Linked DNA regions of Homo sapiens. The protein of the gene in region 3 interacts with the protein of the main gene of each other region in a pairwise test. Each region holds a gene or a part of one and is shown on either strand. Other genes may lie near its edges.

What was found.
Region 1: the proteins of XRN2 (region 3) and PSMA3 interact in a two-hybrid assay, tested with the Homo sapiens proteins (one large-scale study listed by BioGRID and IntAct).
Region 2: the proteins of XRN2 (region 3) and DISC1 interact in binary tests that used the Homo sapiens proteins (3 or more experiments, as listed by UniProt).

Annotation. Positions count from the first base shown.
Region 1 is NC_000014.9:58,247,692-58,251,342, forward strand, and holds part of PSMA3 (proteasome subunit alpha type-3), read left to right. Parts: intron 1-58; coding exon 59-141; intron 142-3,651. UniProt on the Homo sapiens protein: Component of the 20S core proteasome complex involved in the proteolytic degradation of most intracellular proteins. This complex plays numerous essential roles within the cell by associating with different regulatory particles.
Region 2 is NC_000001.11:231,692,664-231,696,314, forward strand, and holds part of DISC1 (disrupted in schizophrenia 1 protein), read left to right. Parts: intron 1-1,162; coding exon 1,163-2,142; intron 2,143-3,651. UniProt on the Homo sapiens protein: Involved in the regulation of multiple aspects of embryonic and adult neurogenesis. Required for neural progenitor proliferation in the ventrical/subventrical zone during embryonic brain development and in the adult dentate gyrus of the hippocampus.
Region 3 is NC_000020.11:21,327,245-21,330,895, forward strand, and holds part of XRN2 (5'-3' exoribonuclease 2), read left to right. Parts: intron 1-1,314; coding exon 1,315-1,426; intron 1,427-3,236; coding exon 3,237-3,295; intron 3,296-3,371; coding exon 3,372-3,461; intron 3,462-3,651. UniProt on the Homo sapiens protein: Possesses 5'->3' exoribonuclease activity. May promote the termination of transcription by RNA polymerase II.

The DNA.
Region 1 (3,651 bases), on a different chromosome or scaffold from region 3:
AACTGTATGGTCATTACTGCCAAAGATACAAGCTTACTGTTGCCCTTTTCTCCTTAAGTATGACCTGTCAGCCTCTACATTCTCTCCTGACGGAAGAGTTTTTCAAGTTGAATATGCTATGAAGGCTGTGGAAAATAGTAGGTAAGAAACATTTAACCAGGTATTACATGTCTCCTTTTATTTTATATATTTTTGGCGATTAGGCTTTGTTATGTTACTTTGGTACAAATTAGTATATGTCCCCAAATCTCAATTTATTCATTTCCAGATCTCTTTCTAGGCCAGATGCTTTCCATGAGCCCCAGTCCTATATTTCTCGTTGATTCCAGGATTATCCACTTAGATTTTCCATGTTGCAGAGTGTATAAATCACATTCATTATCATCTTTTTGTTTTCCATTTTCAAATTCTTGATTTGTATCATAGGCTTCCTCAGCCATTAGGTTTGTGACCTTGTTATTTTTTATTTCTCATACATCTTGTGTTTTAAATGTCTTATGCAATTAGTCACATGTTCGATTCAGCAAAGATTTTTTCTATGTCTGTTTCTGTTTTGAGACCTGAGTCTCACTCTGTCACCTAGGCTAGAGTGCAGTGGCACGATCTTGGCTCACTGCAACCTCCGCCTCCTGGGTTCAAGTGATTCTCTTGCCTCAGCCTCCCCAGTAGCTGGGATTACAGGCATGTGCCACCATGCCCGGATAATTTTTGCATTTTTAGTAGAGACGGGGTTTTGCCACGTTGGCCAGGCTGGTCTCAAACCCCTGGCCTCAAGTGATCCGCTCACCTCGGACTCCCAGAGAGTAGCCCCAGTCCTATATTTCTCGTTGATTACAAAGAGCTGGGATTATAGGCGTGAGTCACTGTGGCCAGCCTAAATACGATTTTAAAAAGTCAGATTTATGCAAATATGAGGAAATATCTTTAAAAAATTGAAACCTTAAAAACGAATGTGTTTTTTCCTGAATGAAGAAAAAATGCAGCCGGGCGTGGTGGCTCACGCCTGTAATCCCAGCACTTTGGGAGGCTGAGGCGGGCGGATCACCTGAGGTCAGGAGTTTGAGACCAGCCTGGCCAACATGGTAAAACCCTGTCTCTACTAAAAAATAACAAAATACAAAAATTAGCCGGGTGTGATGGCACACGTCGTAGTTTCAGCTACTTGGGAGGCTGAGGCAGGAGAATCACTTGAACCTGGCAGGTGGACGTTGCAGTGAGCCAAGATTGCACCACTGCACTCCAGCCTAAGCAACAGAGACTCTGTCTCAGAAAAAGCTAGGATTTTAAAAATGAGACGTAGTTTCACTCTTGTTGCCCAGGCTGGAGTGCAATGGCACAATGTTGGCTCACCGCAACCTCTGCCTCCCAGGTTCAAGCAATTCTCTCAGCCTCCCAAGTAGCTGGGATTACAGACATGCACCACCATGGCCCGCTAATTTTGTATTTTTAGTAGAGACAGGGTTTCTCCATGTTGGTCAGGCTGGTCTCGAACTCCTGACCTCAGGTGATCCGCCTGCCTCAGCCTCCCAAAGTGCTGGGATTACAGGCATGAGCCACGGCGCCCGGCCTAAAAGTTCTTCTTTTTAAAGATGTATTAACCTGTCCTTTGATACTACACCCAAAGTGAACAAATGCTAGTTTCTTATTTTAAAAAAAAATGTTTATTTATTTTAAAAAAGAGGCATGGTCTCACTCACTATGTTGCCTCGGCTGGTCTTGAACTTTTGGGCTCAAGTAATCCTCCTGCCTTGGCCTCCCAAAGTGATGGGATTACAGGTGTGAGTCACTGCGCCTGGCTTATTATTCCTTTTTTTTAAAAAAAACTTTTTTTGGGGGCAGGACATAGGATCTCGCTTTGTCACCCAGGCTGGAGTGCAGTGGTGTGATTACAGCTTACTGCAGACTCGACCTCCTGGTCTCGAGCTATTCTCCTCCCTCAGCCCCACAAGGTAGTTGGGACTACAGGCATGTGCCACCACGCCTGGCAAATTTTTTGTAGAGACAGGGTTTCACCATGTGGCCCAGGCTGGTCTCAAACTCCTGAGCCCAAGTGATCCGCCTGCTTAGGCTTCCCAAAGTGCTGGTATTATAGGTGTGAGCCACCGCACCCAGCCGAAGTCTTTGAATTCTTATGAAAATAATTTTGACCTCGAAGACTGCCTGAAAGGATTTCAGAGATTTCCAGATTTTCAAGAATGTTTTAAACAGTGTGGAAGATGTTGAGTTGAGATAATTAAGACAGGCTTCCTGCTGGGCGTGAGCCACGCCTGTAATCCTAGCACTTTGGGAGGCTGAGGCAGGTGTATTGCTTGAGCTCAGGAGTTCGAGACCAGCCTGGGCAACATGGTGAAATCCCGTCTCTACTGAAAATACAAAAAATTAGCCGGGCATGGCAGTGCGCGCCTGTAATCCCAGCTACTTGGGAGGTTGAGACAGGAGAATCACTTGAACCCGGGAGATGGAGGTTGCAGTGAGCCAAGATCACGCCACTGTACTCCAGCTGGGGCAACAGAGCGAGACTCCATCTCCAAAAAAAAAAAAAAAATAGGGACAGAGTTTCAAAATGTTGGCCTGGCTGGTCTTGAACTCCTGGCCTCAGGCAAGCCTTTCACTTGGGCCTTCCAAAGTCCTGAGGTTACATTCTGACCTGTACTGCTTGAGTTCAACTAAGTTTGCAAACCTTTTGGGGAAATTCATTTAAATAGGCAGTAGTGAAGAGGAAATGTATTCTAGCATCCAGGATAACCTCAAAGACATGGAATCAAAAATGAACATGAGGTTTTTGAAGGTTGACAGTGAGGTAACCAGTAGAGTACAGAATTTATAACAGGAAATTGAATATGCTCAGGGGGTTCTGCCAGACCCTTAGGAGTTTAAACTTGCAAGGGGAGCCATGGAAGACACCTAAAGTGTTGGGGAAGGAGTGTCAGAAATTCTTAGAAAATTTGTTGTGTGCATCTGTTGTTCATTTTTCTGGGAGGAAATGCCATAGTTTCATCAGATTTTAAGAGGCCTGTGAATAACACAATTCCCCTGCTTTTTAGATTGTGGATCCCTTTTTAGATTCTGACTATGGCAAAATGAAACACAGCTAGGAATTAGGCTGGTCTTAGATTAAACGGATTAGAGAAGTAGAAAAGATGGTGTAGTAATCTAGGCCTGAAATTATAAGGATCCCAATGCTGGTATAATTATTGTAAAGAAGTGGACATGAAGGAAATTTTGAAGAAAAAAATTAATAGTAAATAGAAGCTCAACATGGAGGATGTAGAGCTTGGTGATGCTATTATCCAAAACAGAGAAGTTGTGCCGGTAGTCCCAGCTACTGAGGCTGAGGTGAGAGGATTACTTGAGCCTCAGACTTCAATTCAATCTTGGGCAGCATGGCAAGACTCCATTTCTTTAAAATTAAAAAAAAGAAGAAAGAGAAAGTTGAGATAATTTTACCAGAAAACTGTACAATCAAGCATTGCTTATTTTGTCTCTATTGTTTCCGATCAGAACTACCTTTATCAAAAAGGAATAGAAGAATAAAGTGTAACACATTTTCATCTTGAAATGGCAACAAGTAATTTCTCCACATTTTACTTGAGGTTGTGTGTGTGTGTGTTTGAGACAGGGTCTCACTCTGTTGCACAGACTGGTGTGCAG
Region 2 (3,651 bases), on a different chromosome or scaffold from region 3:
CTGCCTAGTTTTACTTTCATGCCTGATTTGCAATGTGGCAGGGTCCTGAGATGAGAGCTCTGTGTGGGCCAGTAGAGTCAAGAGACTTTGTCCTGGTCACTTGGCTACTTGCAGGGGGTTCTGGAAAGTCAAGTTCTCTGAATCTCAGTTGCCTTTAATATAAAAGGAAAGCTATAGTTTCGGGTCGGATTGATTCACATGGTTTTGGTCGGGAGTGAATGAAATTAATGTAAATTAAAACACATTATGAGTAGCAAAGTGCTATGCAATCTAAAAATAATAACATTTTAATCACTCTTATCATCATATGTGCCAGGCACTGTTCTAAGCTGTCTACAAATAGTAACTCATTTAGTTGAATGCTCACAACCACCTTATGAGAGAGCTACTGTTAATATCACCACTTTACTGATGGGGAAACTGAGGCACAGAGAGGTTAAGTAACTTGTGGAAGGTCACACAACCAGCAAGTGGTACAATCAGGGTTTGAACCAGTCAATGAGGAGTCAGCATTTGTTATTGTTCCTATTCCTATAGCATAGCTGGGAAGGGAATGCAATGCTGGTTTGGAGAACACATCAAGCAGGCCTCCTGTCATCCACTGAGTGAGATGAGATGATGGCCATACATTGCGGCACAGCCAGCTATCCATGGTCTGCAGCAACAGATCAGTCTTGCAGGGACATGGATAGCTCCGCTAGTGAACATTCACATGTTCAACGAATAGCTAGAGTAAATAGTTGGATCTCATTTAGAGGCATGCTCTGGCATTCCTCTTTCACGTCATTTGCTTTCCAGGCCCACTCCAGGATGAGAGTACTGAGGTGCCATAAAAGACCAACAGGCAAGATGTTGGAGGGTTCAGGAGCTGCCAAGGTTGTGTTCATGCTGACCTGTTGGCATAGCGTACAGCAGTGCCAGCTGCTCTGCTAAACCGAGGAGCTGAGATGCTGTGTTGATTTCTACATGTTCCAGGCAAATACTTCCTGAGGATTGTCAGGATTTACATAATGGATTGGCCCTGGGACCACTGAGCCAGCATCTATCTTTGACAGGTGTACTGAGAGATGACCTTTAAACCTAGGGATGTTCTCCAGATGCAGTTCCAGCTGGGCCAGTAAGATCTGCATGTTTATGGTGCTGTTTTTTCTTTTCTTCCCAGGCAGCCGGGATTGCTTACCACCTGCAGCGTGCTTTCGGAGGCGGCGGCTGGCACGGAGGCCGGGCTACATGAGAAGCTCGACAGGGCCTGGGATCGGGTTCCTTTCCCCAGCAGTGGGCACACTGTTCCGGTTCCCAGGAGGGGTGTCTGGCGAGGAGTCCCACCACTCGGAGTCCAGGGCCAGACAGTGTGGCCTTGACTCGAGAGGCCTCTTGGTCCGGAGCCCTGTTTCCAAGAGTGCAGCAGCCCCTACTGTGACCTCTGTGAGAGGAACCTCGGCGCACTTTGGGATTCAGCTCAGAGGTGGCACCAGATTGCCTGACAGGCTTAGCTGGCCGTGTGGCCCTGGGAGTGCTGGGTGGCAGCAAGAGTTTGCAGCCATGGATAGTTCTGAGACCCTGGACGCCAGCTGGGAGGCAGCCTGCAGCGATGGAGCAAGGCGTGTCCGGGCAGCAGGCTCTCTGCCATCAGCAGAGTTGAGTAGCAACAGCTGCAGCCCTGGCTGTGGCCCTGAGGTCCCCCCAACCCCTCCTGGCTCTCACAGTGCCTTTACCTCAAGCTTTAGCTTTATTCGGCTCTCGCTTGGCTCTGCCGGGGAACGTGGAGAAGCAGAAGGCTGCCCACCATCCAGAGAGGCTGAGTCCCATTGCCAGAGCCCCCAGGAGATGGGAGCCAAAGCTGCCAGCTTGGACGGGCCTCACGAGGACCCGCGATGTCTCTCTCGGCCCTTCAGTCTCTTGGCTACACGGGTCTCTGCAGACTTGGCCCAGGCCGCAAGGAACAGCTCCAGGCCAGAGCGTGACATGCATTCTTTACCAGACATGGACCCTGGCTCCTCCAGTTCTCTGGATCCCTCACTGGCTGGCTGTGGTGGTGATGGGAGCAGCGGCTCAGGGGATGCCCACTCTTGGGACACCCTGCTCAGGAAATGGGAGCCAGTGCTGCGGGACTGCCTGCTGAGAAACCGGAGGCAGATGGAGGTCAGTGTCTCTTCCACCTCTGTGGCCCGAGATTGTCGTGAGCTCAGATTAGCACTGGGCAGACGGCAGGAAACGAGGGGTTCTGGGCTCAACTGACTTCCTCCTGGAAGCTGCAGCAGCTCCTTTTGGAGCCGGCTGCACAGGATGTTGCTGCACTTCTGTCTCTTTGAATTGGACACAGATCTACTCTCCTTTTTGTCTTCTCTGTCACTTAGGTGCTCAGATTTGCTCTCCATTGGGCCGCAGGCTCCTCTGCAGGCCCCGGCTTAGGTGAGACGTGGTTCATGCAGCCCAGCTCTGCTTTGAGACAGGAAACTGGGGGCAGGGGAGATTGAGCTGGGTGATGTTTGGAAGGACTTGAGAGATACAAAAATGGGGATGCCCTCTATCAGGGCGATCCTGCTCTTCATCCGCTTCACTCATTCCCTTCCATCCTGCTGCAGTGGCTGCTGCCTTCCACAGGGTCGGGAGACTTCGCTTCTGGTCATTGAACCTCTTTGGCTCTCAGTTTCCGTATTTAGAGATAACACCAACTCATAGGATTGTTCTAAGGCTCAAATGAGAATGTAGCTGCTTTGGAAATAAGTACAAACTGGAGACATCTAAGGCCCAGCCTTATGATGATGCTGTCCATCCAGTTATCTGAGAGGTGGGTATAGCCGGAAGTAGGTAGGGTTCCTCTACCCACAAAAGTTCCCAGAGAAGCCCAGGTAGAGATGCTCTGTGGCTCATCTGTTGCCAGACTGTATTTTAATCCTGGTGTGTGTGTGCATATGTGTTTGTGTGTGTATGTGTGTGCATGTAGGTGTGCCTGTGTGTGCGTGTGTGTGTGTGCATGTTTGTGCTGTGTGTTCATGTGTGTGTGTGCATGCATGTGCGAGTGTATTTGTGTGTGTGCACTCATGTGTTTCTGCGTGTGGTGTGTGGATATGTTCATGTGGGTAGGGAAGTGGAGCACCCACTCATCAGGCATTTGGGAGGAGTAATCTGCAGAAGTTCATGCTCATTCCCCGAAAGAGCATCTCCCATCTGTTCTTTATCTATAGTCTGATGTTTCTAGCCCTGTCCCTGTTTGCCCTGTTTCAGCCCTCAGGGACCTCAGCCCAGCCCTCTGATTTATTATGCAGAGAGGGAGTGAGGTCAGAGCACAGATGCAGGCTTGTATTCTGGGTGATGTGTGGAGTCTTCCAGTTAGTCATTGCCTAAACCAGTGCCCCTTGTCTTTCCCCGAAACCCGTTCTGAAGGGCCTCCAATATTGGTTGATTTGAATGCATAGAATCTATCCAGTTTCTTAGGCCAGAAACCACAACCATCTTCCACACCTCCCTCTCCCTTGTTCCACATCTGGCTGGCCTCCAAGCCCTCTCAGTCCTACTGCTAATCTGTCTCTCATCACCATGGCCGCTGCCCTGGCTCAGATCCTTGTTATCTTTCACCTGGGTTTTGCAAGAGGGTCTACCTTCCTGCGGTGTTTCTCTTCTCCAGTTAATTAAACTAAATGTGATCAT
Region 3 (3,651 bases):
CATGAAAATGATTTGAGAGGAGTAAGTTACTGACCTATGATAATAATACCAAGTAGCTCCTTTTATAAATGACCAGCAAACTCTATTAGGGGGGTAAGGTAAGATATAACTCTAAATTTATTTAGCTATCTGCAAGTAGATTCTTTTAATTTTAGTGCATCCTAGCGGCTAATGGGATGATTTTGGAAATTCAGAGAACTTTGAATCCAAGAAGATTAACTTTTCTGTGAGATTCGTCTTACTCAGTGAAAAACCTTAGCTACCTGATAACTTGCTAAGTTGCAGTTAGAATGGAGTAAAGAGTAAAAAGAAAAGGAATATGTCTTGTTTAGAGCACATTTCAGTTTATATTCAGCTAATTTTTTTTGAAGAAATCTTTAGCTTTACTCCAGTGTGTTCTTTCTGCTACATCAAGTATAAAATATGTACACATTTATATGCATGTGTGTGTACATGTTTATACACACATTTTTTTGTTTATATATAAATGTAGATACAGAACTTTGTACTTGAGAGGGCTTCATTAGATGGTCTCATTCTACAGAAAAGGGAATTGTTTAAAGAGAATATTAAATAACTTACATTTAGATGTAAACAGGATATTTCACAGTTTCTTCCCACCCCAAAACTCAGTTCAGTAACTTCGAAAATCTTACAATCTAGTTCACTTTATTTGGGCTTTTCCACTGAAATTGCATTTGGTTAGAGTGATTTAAAAGTACTTCTGGTTAAGGCATTATTTCTTTCTAACTGCTATGCCTTATTGAAAAGACAGAAAAATTATAAACCTTATTGTGGGAAATAGAAGTGCACCGAGATTCTTCACATAAAGAAATAGTTTTCTGTTGCTTTTATGAGACATTGTGGATCCCATTTGGACACCATTCTTCCTTTTAGGTGTGGACATAGAGAATGTCTTCCTGATCTTAGTTCAGTAGTAACTGCTCATCAGATGTTGGCTGGGTCTTTTGAGTAAAGTGAGCTTTCTTTCTTGGGTGCCCTGAATCAAGCACCCTAACCGAGGGGAACTGGTGTTAGACTGGGAGGGCTTGAAGTATAAGTGCTAGGGCTTCATAGGATGTTTGTCCATTTGACGTGGCACTCATTCACCTGATTGAGCTCAGCTTTTGGGTTCTCGGTCCAAATTTAAGTTCTCAGCATCTGGTATCTGTCATGAAAGGATTATTAGACACATTACTTACCTTTCTTCCATTTTAGTGTACTGCTTTTATAAGAACAACTGATTCAAAATAAGGTACAGATTTATTTGTGAATATTTTGATGAGTGTTATGGAATATGAAATACATTTTCAGGCACCACGTGCTAAAATGAACCAGCAGCGTTCAAGGAGGTTCAGGGCATCAAAAGAAGGAATGGAAGCAGCAGTCGAGAAGCAGCGAGTCAGGGAAGAAATATTGGCAAAAGGTAAAGAATATGCATCTTGAAGTTGGATTTTTTCATAAGATGTATGCAGAATGAGGGGGTGGTGGCAACTTTTTCTTACAAAGAGGCAAGCTTTTAATTTAATAAGGATCCCAGAATATCCAGTGTTCACTGTTGAGGAAAAGTAGTTCATGAAATCTACCAATAGGCTTAATAGGCTTGTTTATTTTCAAACTCTCCAGTAAGAGGGAGCCTTGGGAATAGGGAATTCTGGTGGAGATTGCAGATTGTCAACTCCTCTCAGGGCCAGTGCAGCTCTTTAACAAACTTTTATGTCTCTGTAGAATAGAAATATAGTAAGTATTTTTTACTACTTTTCTCTGTGGCGGCTGTCAGAAAGCTATAGTGCTGTAAACATTTTCCTCAAATCAGCTTTGGTTTGCTTGCTTTTTGAAACTCAGAGGTCTATCTGAGGAAGCCGGAGGTGATTCGATCCACATTTACAGGCTGTTGCCAAGTCATTTGCATACTTTCAATATAGGTTGATGGAGCAGGCACAGTACTTATGGTTCCTTCAAGTTTGGAGGGGTTAGGGTGGGATGTCTTCATTTTTGCAGTTCCCCAAAGCCTTAAAATTCCTGGTGGCTACATGGGTAGGAACTGACTAAGCCTCAGAGAAAAGGAAGATCAGGGAGTGTTGATGCCAGTTGGGACTGGTTCTCTCCTACCACACCTGTGTGTGAGGTAGGGTATGGTTGTAGCAGGTTTGTTTGGTGTTCTGCTACTTAAGGGGGTATAATAGACCAGAAAAGCCACAGTGTCTTGGCTCCGGATAATTGCACTCTGCAGTTGAAAAAGGATGCCATAGTATAGCCAGCTCAGGCCTGCAATTACAATAAATTTTATATTACTTGAATTTTGCTGGAAGTGTACAAGTATATAGTTCCTTTAGCTGCAACTTGTAATTAAGACTCTAAAACCTGTTTGTATTTATAACAATGTTTCTGATTTTAAGAATGTCTTTTTTTTGAAGATGTGATGAAATATACTTGTTTCTTGAGAAGCAGCTAATAGTGATAGAGAGGAAAAAATAGGATTTTTATATTCCTCTACCTGATAATTGTATTTCTTATCCTGTAAAGCTGTGATGAACTCGGCATTTTAAATTTCATTTTTCTTAGGCACCTTTATTTTAGGAACTGTTATCAAAAAATATGGCCTCTAACTGGTGTGTGTGTGTGTGTGTGTGTGTGTGTGTGTGTGTGTGTGTATTCTCTTACAGAGTGAAGAACTTCATAATTTTTATGTAACAATATAATATCTTTTGTGTACCATATATTGTTTTACAGTCTTATTAAAACATAATTTAAAAGGCTGAGCACGATGGCTCACCCCTGTAATCCCAGCATTTTGGGAGGCCGAGGACGGCAGATGACTGGAGGTCAGGAGTTCAAGACCAGCCTGGCCAACACAATGAAACTGCGTCTCTACTAAAAATACAAAAATTAGCCAGGCGTGGTGGCAGGCGCCTGTAATCCCAGCTTCTCAGGAGGCTGAGACAGGAGAATCGCTTGAACCCCGGAAGGCGGAGGTTGCAGTGAGCCGAGATTGCACCACTGCACTCCAGCCTGGGTGACAGAATGAGACTCTGTCTCAAATAATAATAATAATAATAATTTAAATTTGAGAGATGGAATCTTATTTTCTTCCCAGTGAGGGAACATTTTTCCTCGGATGACGAGACTTCACTTTCTTTTGTAGTGGAACTTTTTGTTTTTGTTGTTCTGGCTTAATGTTGAGTAATTTATCTCACTTTTTATGGGGAGAACAAAACGTTGCCTCTTTTCTCTAGGTGGCTTTCTTCCTCCAGAAGAAATAAAAGAAAGATTTGACAGCAACTGTATTACACCAGTAAGTAGTCTCATACTTTGCTAGCTATTGCTAACTCTTAAATGATAGGTTAATTTATTTCTTTCTATCATTTTAGGGAACTGAATTCATGGACAATCTTGCTAAATGCCTTCGCTATTACATAGCTGATCGTTTAAATAATGACCCTGGGTGGAAAAATTTGACAGTAAGTTTCACATTTTGATACTTCAGAAAGATTAGGGTGATCATTCGAGGCTGTACTTTGATATGACTGACATTATTTATCCTTCTGCCCTGCCCCATAAAATGCTAGTTGACTGTTGGAAGAAAGAAAAGCTTCCAGGGTTTTTGGAGATGGGGTATCCTTGCATGGTTAGGTTTTAGATAGCTGAATT